Linked DNA regions of Homo sapiens. The protein of the gene in region 3 interacts with the protein of the main gene of each other region in a biochemical or structural test. Each region holds a gene or a part of one and is shown on either strand. Other genes may lie near its edges. The genes, in order: MAPK8IP2, DAB2 and LRP8.

Region 1 (3,649 bases), on a different chromosome or scaffold from region 3:
CCCGGCATTTCTAGCTGCTCCCCTTACACGCGGGCCCCAGAGCCTATATAGCCCCCGACCAGTGCATCCCACACCCTTGGCTCAGCTAGACCCCACCAGGAAGATCCACTTCCCCACCGCTGTCACCTGCTGTGTTTCCAGGCTGGCCATCCTGAGCCCCAGGCCCACTCAGGCGTCCTCTGCACCCACACAGGCTTCTCACATCCTTCGCCCGTGTGCCTCTCTCCACCCAGACTGGATGCAAGCCTGTCTGACCCACGCCTCCTGAGTCCAGCTCAGAGCAGGCGCCACTGCAGGCTCAGCTCACAGAGCTAAGTGGGTGCAGGTGGAGCTCTCAGGGCTGGGCACGGGCAGCCCTCAGGGTCTGTGGGGACTCAGGGGGCGGTTGGACTCTCAGGGTTTGTGGGGGCGGTTGGGGGACTCGGGGACGGTCAGACTCTCACCAGCTGTTGCGGGGATGGCAGCCGCAGAAGGAGATGTTCTTCATCTGGAAGAAATGGCTGCAGCGCTGGAACTAGAGCAGAGGTGGGCAGAAGTCCCTGTGTCAAAGGAGGCCTGGCGCCACCCCTGCCTCCCACCTACTGGACACCCCTGCCAGCCTGGCCCCGTCGGACTCCGTGGCCTAACCCTATCCCCCAGTCCCCGGTCCCCAGTCCCCCACACTCCCACCTCGGGCCCTCCTCCGCTCAGACTCAGCTTGACCCCCCGAAGAGAGATCTCGAGGTCACAGGAGGCAGGAGGGCGCAGGTGGACGGTCAGTTTCCGGGCAGTGGCAATCTACAGAAGAAGTTGGGGGAGAAGAGGGTCTTGAGGAGCCCACAAGGGCCTTTCTTTCCCCTTGGTGGGACTACGCCTCTGCTCCTTTTAGCTTATGTTTGAGGACACACATGCTGAGGACCCTGAGATGCAATTCTGGAAGACATAAGGGGTGTGGCCTTGGCCACTCCTCAGGCTCAGGAGGAGCAATCGCCTCTCTGCAGTCAGCTTGCTTCATCTTCCTTCTGCTCCTCCAGGCAGGCTGCTGCGCTTGGCTCAGGAGCCAGGAACAGAGACCTCACCCGCCCTGGGCTGCTCTGCCCTGCTCCCTACTGCCCCCCAGCCTCAGCCTCAGTACTGGTGCCTGGGCAGGTGCTCACTAAACGTCCACTGAGTGAGTGGATGAGTAGAGGGCTCCCAGGGAAGGGGCTGTGAGGGCTGGTCTTGATTCCAGATGGGAAGAGGAAGGGCTGATGGCAGTCGGGGCCACCTGGAAGATCTGTGGCCCAGAGACCCAGAGGTGATGAGGGACAGCTGCTGTGCTCTGCCCTAGACTCACCTGCTCAGGCCTCTGAACCAGGGCCTGGGGTACCCACCCCGAGCTCCCCCTGCAGCATCCCCCAGACCCTCCCTGGAGGAAATCAGACCTCAGACCTTGGAGCCTCAAGCCCTGTGCCAGCCTGCAGTGCTGGTGTGGCCGCCAAGCGGACCCTCAGCCTGCACTTGCCCGGCCTCCACACTGACCTTCTGCATGGCTGCACACAGGATGCCGTTGCCCTGGTGGCAGGGCACCTCCACGGAGCCCAGGAACTGCACGTCAAAGCGCTCCACCCAGCAGGGGCTCCGCTTACTCCCTGGGGAGCGGGGCACAGAGGGCCCAGGTCAGGCAGGGGCACAGGGGAGGATCTGGGGTGAAAAGCCTCCCCTCGGGGTTGGGACCTCACCCAGCAGGTCCTTGGCAGGGCCGGGCACCGCATGGGCGTAGAAGGCAGGAAACACACCGCGCTCCCCCGTGCGCATGTTGAAGCCACGGAACCAGAAGTCGTCCTCCTCGGCCTCCACCAACACAGGGTCATCCACATCCAGCTCCAGCTCGTCTGGATGCCGCGGGATGAACCTGCCGTTGGGGGAGAGGTCACTGGGGAGGGGGGCGGGATTGACGGTCGTGTCCACTGGCGTTCCGTGATGGCAGGGACTGAGGCTGGGGCCACCGCCAGCAAGGAGGGAGGCCGTACCTGAACACAGCCCGGTGAGTCTGCTCTCGCTCCTCGCCGTTGACCAGACAGGAGAAAAGGCCAAAGGACTCGGTGCCTGGGAGACCCGGCAGGACAGAGGCGGGGGAGACAGGGAGACAGAGTCAGAGTAGTGCTTAGAGGCCTGGCCTTGGGCAGAGGCCAAGTCCCCTCCACAGTCCGGTGTAGGTGTCCTACGAGCGGGAAGGAGCTGAGGCAGAGCAGGCCACCTCATGCCATGTCCTGGGTGGGAGAGGGCACCCAGCCCTGACCACAGCCAGACCCTCAGGTGGCCCTGGGCACTGTGGGGGACCCTGGGACTGGGGCCAGGGAGTCTGCACCTTCCTCTGGGCCACCCCCCTTTTCCCCACCTCTCACTCACTGGAGGACCGAGATGTGCTGTTGACGAAGACATTGAGGAACTTCTTGGAGAAAGTGAGGTCAGGGCTGTCCGGCGAGGTGTCCCCCGAGACCTGACCGCCGCCTAGCAGCGCCGCGCCCGCCTCCTCCTCGCTGGCCTCCCCGCCGCTGTCCTCTTCGCTGTCGTGGCCCAGCCCAGCACAGCGCCGCAGGCTCACCAGCTCCAGCTGCGTGTGCTCATCCACCACCAGCGTGTACTTGACCGCGTCGTACACCAGCGACGCGTCCCGCGGCGCCGAGGGGCCCGTGCCCCTGCCCCCGGGGGACCCCGCACTGTCCTCGGCATCCTCCTCTTCCTCGTCGTCCTCTTCGTCCTCCTCCTCGGAGCAGGCGGCGGAGCAGGCTCGTCCCGGGCGGGCGGCGCGGCCGGGCGCGGCCCACAGCGGCGTGATGGTGTCACGCGTGGGGTTGCTGAGGAATAGGCAGGGCCCGGGCTGCGCGGGGCCGGGTCGAGGCGCGGCGGGCGCGGGCGGCGGCGGCGCGCACAGCGTCTCCATGTCCACCAGCTCCACGCCGCCGGGCCCCGCGGCCGCCTCGGGGTCCTGGGAGTCCTGGGCGGCCCCGCCGGCCGGCGACACGGGCTCCCCGGGCGGGCGCGGCGCAGGAGACAGGCACTGGCCGGGGCAGCGGATGGGCGAGGAGCCCTCGGAGATCATGCGGCTCACCAGGTTGCTGAGCAGCCAGGGCGAGTCCGCGTCCTCGCTGAGGTCCGGCTCCGACTCCGACCCCGACTCGTACTCGCTGTTGGTGTCGTCGGGGCCCACGGGCAGGAAGGCGGGGCGGCGCGGGGGTTCGCGCGGGGGCTCCGGCTCCGAGGCGGGCGACGAGGCCTCCTCGATGGAGTTGGTGAGGTGCGAGGAGCGGCCGCTGCTGCTGCTTCCGCCATCGCTGCTCAGCTCCAGCTCCGTCTCCGAGATGGACGAGATCATGCGCCCCAGGCGCGCGCCGCCCGCGTCCTCCGAGTCGGAGCCGGGCGAGGACAGCTCCTGGCTGCTGCGACGTCCCCCGCGGCCGCCGCTCGAGCGGCTTCTCAGGTCAGCCTCGATGCCGGGATCTGAGGAGGGCGAAGTCCCCCCTGGCGCAGGGGGTTCCGCAGGCCGGTTCCCTTCGCAGTCGCAACCCGGGCGCACTGGCGACTGCGCCCCGCCGGGCCCGGTGTCCGTGGCAGGGAGGGGGCCCGGGAGCTCTGCTGGGCAGGGAGGTGGGGTCACCCTCTCTGCACCACCCAGGCCTCTTCCAGC
Region 2 (3,649 bases), on a different chromosome or scaffold from region 3:
ATAGAGTGACAAAATAGACATGGTCTCTACTCTAAAGGGGCTTAGAGGTTAGGTAGGGGAGAAAGAACAAGCAGGTCACAGTTATAACTGATGCTATGTGTTTTGGAGGAATTGTTTCTGATTAGGGTAGAAAGCTTCATTGCTGTTAATAATACTTCATAAAAGGAAGAAAAAGTAGTATTACATCAAGGAATTATATATAAATTGCTGTATTGATATCAATTATGGAAAGATGCAAATGTTGTCTGAAGGGTTAATAACCCTCTTCAACAATTTTTAAATTATGACACAAATTGAGGGGATATTTACATTTAATATTTATGAGTCTCCTATAACCACGTTACAATCTGAAGGACCATCTGTATGGCAGTAACAGAAGGAAGCAATTCTGTTATACCTGAGGGTATTGAAGAATTTCAGTGATGTTTCCTTCAGAGTTATCATAAGATCCAAAGTTCTGAATCAACACTATCTTCATAAACACCAGAAGGAAACACTATGCTCATTTGGCATTCAGTCTGGCATTCACTTAAGAAGTACAAGCAATTCAGGGAACTTCTGTATTCTAGAACCAGACATGTTCTGTGGCACTTTTAATTACCAGATTTTCTAAGAATACAACGTGTCACTTTCAGATCAGGCCAAACATTGAACCTCAGATTTCAGTGAAACAATCTTATGAAAATGTAACCAAGGGTCCCTACAGCTTGCTTTAGTTATTTAAAGAGCACTACCAAGTCACAAGAGCATTATCAAGGGGCTACCAGGCAGCACTTGGTCAATGTCAGTCTTCAAGGAAATGGACTTCATGATCAATACAAGTAGTGAGCCCTCCACAAATGTTGGCCGCATGAAGTGTAAGAGTCCAGATCCTAACACAGAACATGGTTGTGCCCACTGTTTCTATGAAAGAGTTCTTGTGCAGAAAACTGAACATTTGCATCACTATACACTAAGTGGGAACAGCATTACAGAATGTACTTCGTATGCAGATATACCTAAAAGATCCACAACAGTACTGTCTGCAGCTTAGAATGAAGCTAAGATTTTATCCTAAACTGTTCATGTTTAATGAATGAGTCAAACCTCTGAAAGTCTACTTTTCATAATTACCCTTTATTTTCACACCTCTCCTCCCTCCCCATCATATTTTTTTTTTTACTTAGTTCCAGCATTTTTCCTCAACCTTGCCTCACCGCCACCCTGAGTTCCTCCTCCCTAAAAAGCTATACCACGTTGTATCATACATGTCCCTCATGATTAGCGGACTTATATTATGGTGTTTGTTGATCTTTTCTACACACATAGCATAAGTACTCCTTAATATATTTAAAACACTTGAAGTGAAAAACAAACAAACAAACAACTCTTTATGGGATGAGCTCTTTCTTCCATTTTCTCCAAAGGGCTTCAGTGAGAATCTAAGGTGTAAGAGACTCTGGTTGTAACTGATCTCCCTTTATGGCTAAATTTTTGTAGGAGTGTTTACTGGCCTCCTAGCTTTCCTGATTTTGAATTAATCAGGTATCGGTGTTCAATTCCTCCATTCACATTCAAGCTGAGATTCAAAGCCCTTCTAATCAGGCTGTGGACTATACATATACATGGCCACCTGCTCTCTGAAGAGGCCGTTGTCTTCTGTTTCCCCTAAACAGACACATAGACACACCAGACCTTCTTATGTGGTCTGCTAGCCTGTAATATGTACTGCCTTCACCTTCTTGAATTTCGTGAAAACCTTCATTCCAAGGCCACTCAAGATGTGTGGTCTCAGGGAAGTCTTTACCGGCCTCTTACCAGCCATTTCCTCACATTTGCCATGACCTATCATTGCCCTCTGATTCATGTAGAGCTCTTCTCTCAATTCAATAAAGCTTTTGGGATCCGAAAATTATTTGCCCTACTTTTCTAGGCTCGACACAGTCTGTTAATGAGCAGTGCGCTTAAAACATTAGGGGTAATAAATATTTCTTTTTGCACCTTAATCTTAGGTTAAGCAACCCTTTTCTCTACTTTGATGATTTTTGAAGAAATATAGGCTTTTCTTCAACTACTAAGCAATCTCCACTCAAACACATTCTGCCAATAGAGCCAGGTTAAGTTATCCCAATCAGCATTTGGTTTTCCTGCTTTAATGACGGATCTGCTTGGCAAACACCGCATATTCTCATTTGTAAGTGGGAGTTGAATAATGAGAACACATCAACACAGGGAGGGGAACATCACACACCGGCGCCTGGTTGGGGGGTAAGGGGAGGGATAGCATTAGGAGAAATACCTAATGTAGGTGATGGGTTGATGGATGCAGCAAACCACCATGGCACATGTATACCTATGTAACAAAACTGCATGTTCTCCACATGTACCCCAGAATCTAAAGTATAAAAATAAAAAAAAAAAATCAAAATTCTTATCCTGACATCCATGGCTCAGTATAATTCATCCCTACTTTTCAAACTCAGACACTTCTCAGCCCTATGCCACCTGTACTGTTTCTTGGCCAAACTGACCAGTCAGAGTTCTTTAGGCATATCCTAAGTTCATCCAACTGCATGATTTGCATATGCGCTGCTGCCTAAAATGCATTTTCTCTTCTTACCTTTGCTTATTTGACTTCCATTGTTCCTTTAAAAGCCAAATCCATTAACACCAATGGCCTTTTTCTCCCTCTGGATCCACACAACACTCTGTACCACTTAACTACAATAAAATCATATGTTAGTTGAGTAGTTACTATTTTCTCTAACTATCTTATAGGCAGCTCTTGTCATATATGTGTCCCTCTAAGGTAAATATTTGCACCCAACTTTCAATTACTATCAACTTTTAGTCATTGGGAACTTCAGACCAGTTAGACAAATCAGAAATCACAAAGAACAGGTTTTCAGGCAGTTAAGCAAGCATTTCTGCATCAAGCTATCCTTTAGAAGACAGCGTGGACATTAAATATAACTGTCTATCATTTCAATTCTAGTACATGTATGCTCTCTGAAAAGCCTCAGCTATAGTTGAACCTTAGCCCAGGCAGAAATCAATATTGACCCTCCTTACTAGCAACCAACAATTGATGGAAAAGCCTGTTCTATCAGCTACATACTTGTTTTTTCTACTTCAAAAATGAATTGCATTTAAGTCGCTTAATTTTAGAGGTAAAGGGGGCAGGGAGCAACACAAAACAAAATCAAGTAACAACAACAACAAAACCTAATGCTGATATAACTAAAGCACAGCTGACCCTTCCCTTTAAAGGATGGATATTTGAGCACCTACTATGTGTAGCCACAGCAACTTCTGATCTTCTGACTCAGAGGGCAGTTGTATGTTGCCCTAGTAGATTCACATTTCGTCCCAAAGCCAAACTGGTATAGCATTCTTCATATGATTATGTCAGCCCTCTGACATATGTTCAAACACATTTGGTTTATTTCTGTTGCACTAAATGGTAACAAAAAGCACGTTAGCATCTGTATTACATATTACAGAAAACTAGACCAGGTCTTGGCCCCCTAATAGGACACTTAAAATATAAAAAAATAAGTGAGATCATTTGGATGCAATATTTAGAACCGAGAGGGCAGCTGTGTTCAATATGGACACAATTAGGGATGAAGTTATTCACTTTCCAGTTCTTTGGGTATGGATTAACTAT
Region 3 (3,649 bases):
AGAGCCTTGTGTGCTAGGCTAAAAAACCAAATTAAATCAGGACTGGGAGGTGGGCAGGAAGGCTGCAAGGGCAGAACAAGTCAATAGGGCAGGCCAAGTTCTCTACCCTGCTAGCGCTCTTCCCTAGGCCTAAGCAGGGTCTCTCTTTTCTCTTCAGTGACTGGGGGCCACACTCACCTATGGGCACGATGATCCCGATAACAGCGGCAGTGACTGTTGAGCCCATCTTACTGTCTTCATTTGCATCTGCAAAACACAAACATTTGCAGAATGATGCTCTATCACTGTGTGTCCAAGCCCCTACTGGCCTCAAGTGGTAAGAACTACCCAACTGCTGCTCATCCTCATTCTAAAATGATGATCCTGGCTGTTGCCTAATAATTCAGTCTTTCCAGATCCTATCACAACTCCTGTGAGGCAAGCAGGACAGAGGTTATCTCCATTTTACAGGCAAGGAAACTGAGTCTTAACTGAGGGGTTTCAGAAAAGTGGCAGAGCTGGGACTTGAACCCAGGACTCATGTCCCAAGTCCCATACCCTTTCCATAGCATCATGGTAGTAGGAAGCTGGGGGCTGTGCATGGCAAAGTGAGCACTTAGGTCTTTATGTTGCTGATGGACTAGGTCATTTGCCTTTTTCCATCAGTATCTGTTGCTTTGCCAGTATTGTTTTTTGTGAACTGTCTGTCCATCTGCATTATCAGATTATTTTTCATAAGTAATTGAAATGGGACATAGTATAGTGTAGAGGAATCAAAAGCGCAGACTTCTGTGTCAGACTTCTGGGTTCAAGTCCCAGCTCTACTACTCACTACCCATGTGACCTTGGGCAAATTATTATATATTATAAATACAGCACATGGTATTATACTTTTATATCTTTAAAATGGTGATATTACCTACCTCCTAGGGATATGGTAAGGATTAAATGAAATAATTTATCTAAAATGAATATAAAATGCTTGGCACAACTTTGCCTAGTTCTAAGAGGGTGGAGAGTGGGATGGGGTTGTTGAATAGGGTCTAAATTTTAAAAAGATATGTAAAAGCACATTTTAAACTGAAAAGTGCTTGGAAAATTTACTGTCTTTTTGAAAAACTATGCCATGCCATCTTTCTCACTCTTATAACCATCTTCATTGTAACATTTGTGAAGCACTTTATAGTTCAGAAAGCATTTTTCCCTTAGATCCTCCTGACAGCTCCCTGTGGTGTGAAAAGGAGCTATCATCTACACTTGCTGCAGGTGAGATGACTGTCCCGGCAATGGCCCAAGGCCCATCCTCTCTCAATGTGACTGTTTATCCATGTTACTCCAAGAGAATCTAACAGTTAAGGGGAGAAAAAGCTGCACTGCTTGCTTCCAGAGCTAACTGTGTCCTCCCTGCTGTCCTCCCTGCTCTGGGCCACAGCGAACACTGGACAGTGATATTAAAACCTAGAGCATGAGGAAGCCAGTGAGGAGAAGCTGGTGAGAGGCTCTGCCCTCAGATGAGAGGAACTGGAATTCACACATGCTCCATCTGCCTCTGCAAACTTCGGAGTAAGTGCTCCACTCCAAAAAGCCAGCTTCTGCTGGCAAATAGGACCAGTTAGGAAGATGTTGCCAAGCAGCTTGGTTTCTGGGCTGTCCATGTAGGGGAAAAAATTAAAAAGATAGTTTATCCTTTTAAATGAACTCCCTCTGGCAGGTAACTCAATTAAAAAGGTATTTGCTGATTAATGAGATAGAACATTTCTAGCAGTGACAATTACTGCTCCCAATGATTTAATAAGTGGTGAACTTAATTATTTTCATCCCAGGGTTGGAAAGAGGTATAAGGAGACCATGGTTGTAGATATTACTATCTGGGGACCTGCTGTGAACTGAGATCAGAGCTTTCCAAACACAAGGGACACCTCCTCATATACACATCAGAACTTTGTGAAACATAGACACACACACCCTCGCAGAGTCAGCAACGGCTGTGTGCGTGAGCACCTCCAGTTATACCGGTTACACCTTTGTCTATCATGGCAATCTTGTGAAGCAGGTTGTGGAAGGGTGGTTATTTCCACTTTGTAAGAGAAGCAACTGAGGCTCACAGGGTCTCAGCTTCCTACAAGACCCTCTGTAAGGTAGGGGCACCTATGAGTCCTAAATCGCAGGCTGGTACTCTACCTCCCTCTCAGATATGCAGTAACCTCCTCAAAGATATGCAGTATTCAGCTCTGGTAGGTTCTGTCTTATCACATACCCCCTTCCTGGCTTCCCTAGGAGCCCTCCCATGTCATGAAAGAATGCAGAACTCATTTCCTTACAGTGCTGGGAGTGGTTGCTGGTTGCAGGGCTTAGGGTAGACGGGCTGATGCTGGGAGCCCTGGGGACACTAACTGAGCTTGGGACTGCAGCTGTCAGGCTTGGTGTCTCTGTGCTGTGGTTCTGGTAGGTGGATCTGTGGACGGTGGTCCCGGGGGCTCTTGTGGTGGCAGGTACTGTCCTCGTCATGGTAGAAGCTAACGTCGTAGTTGAGGTAGATTGAGGTGCTGGAGGGGAAATACCATGGAGGTCACTTGGACAGATAATTTTGTTGCCTAAGGTATTGCCTCTGAGATATACTTAGGAACTTATCTTCATGGCGTAGCTCAAATGCCACTTCTGTGAAGCCTTTCCTAATCTCCCCAGTGGGCTATGATCTTTTCTTTAGCTGAATGCTAAGCACTTCACTTTGATTCAATAAAGATGAGTCATTAAAACATTGCTGTGGAATTAGTTGTAAGATCAGCAATAAAAAGACTGTAGGGAGGGGAAATCAGATAAATCTAGAAGGATTTTACACTCATATATTGTTATACCAATAGATTGAAATTCTTATTCCACTTTAAACAATTGAACCTGTAAATCATTAATAATGCAGTAGACTTAGGCTCAAATGAAAGGCCTTGGCTATACATCAAGATTAGGACATGAATCTGTGTATGCGGTTGAAGTATTAACTATTAGTCCCAATTATATTGCAAAAGGGCTGCTGTGTAGTGTTTGTTAAGTTCTAGGTGAGAAACAGGCAAATATATAGTTATCTGCATGTACCTGAAGCCACGGCGATTAAGGGTTCTTAACTTGAGGTTTTTAAAGCGTTCCAGAAACTCCCTGAAACTGAATTTAAAATGTTTTATGTATATGTGCATTTTTTCCTTGGGAGTGAGAAAAAGCTTTGGAAGGATCCTGGGGGCATGAGCATTCAAGGAAGGTAAAAAAGAGAAACCCCCAAAAGGCAACAAGTAACCAGGGAAGATGGAAGAAAACCAGCAGCATACTGTGTCCCAGAAGCCAAGGGAAGATTTCAGCAGGGTAGGGTCTGACACTGCCAGGGGCCATCCCTCCTGGAAGGTCTGCTTACCTCGGTAGCACCTCTTCATGTCTGGACCCAGCCACATTGTGTCAGGACAGGCACATGTGTACTTGGGAGAGTGGCTGGAGATCTGAGGAGCAGGAAGGCACAGGTATTCACAGCCTCCATTAGGCTGGACACTCAGCTCACAGGCATCTGGAGCTAATGGCAGAGAGGGAGACAGCTGGGGCACAGACAGGACATGCCAGGTCTTCCTGCCTCCTGAGGATGAGGCTTCTCCCACCTGGCTTGCTCAAAAAGCTTGCCCTATACTTTTTT

What was found.
Region 1: the proteins of LRP8 (region 3) and MAPK8IP2 form a complex in vitro, tested with the Homo sapiens proteins (one study listed by BioGRID).
Region 2: the proteins of LRP8 (region 3) and DAB2 form a complex in vitro, tested with the Homo sapiens proteins (one study listed by BioGRID).

What each region holds. Positions count from the first base shown.
Region 1 is NC_000022.11:50,603,786-50,607,434, reverse strand, and holds part of MAPK8IP2 (C-Jun-amino-terminal kinase-interacting protein 2), read right to left. Parts: intron 3,598-3,649; coding exon of another isoform or gene 3,595-3,597; coding exon 2,371-3,594; intron 2,068-2,370; coding exon 1,992-2,067; intron 1,874-1,991; coding exon 1,701-1,873; intron 1,611-1,700; coding exon 1,501-1,610; intron 778-1,500; coding exon 670-777; intron 515-669; coding exon 444-514; intron 1-443. UniProt on the Homo sapiens protein: The JNK-interacting protein (JIP) group of scaffold proteins selectively mediates JNK signaling by aggregating specific components of the MAPK cascade to form a functional JNK signaling module.
Region 2 is NC_000005.10:39,414,911-39,418,559, forward strand, and holds part of DAB2 (disabled homolog 2), read right to left. Parts: intron 1-3,649. UniProt on the Homo sapiens protein: Adapter protein that functions as a clathrin-associated sorting protein (CLASP) required for clathrin-mediated endocytosis of selected cargo proteins.
Region 3 is NC_000001.11:53,254,940-53,258,588, forward strand, and holds part of LRP8 (low-density lipoprotein receptor-related protein 8 isoform 1 precursor), read right to left. Parts: intron 3,533-3,649; coding exon 3,380-3,532; intron 2,526-3,379; coding exon 2,301-2,525; intron 1,543-2,300; exon of another isoform or gene 1,189-1,542; intron 317-1,188; exon of another isoform or gene 247-316; coding exon 178-246; exon of another isoform or gene 158-177; intron 1-157. UniProt on the Homo sapiens protein: Cell surface receptor for Reelin (RELN) and apolipoprotein E (apoE)-containing ligands. LRP8 participates in transmitting the extracellular Reelin signal to intracellular signaling processes, by binding to DAB1 on its cytoplasmic tail.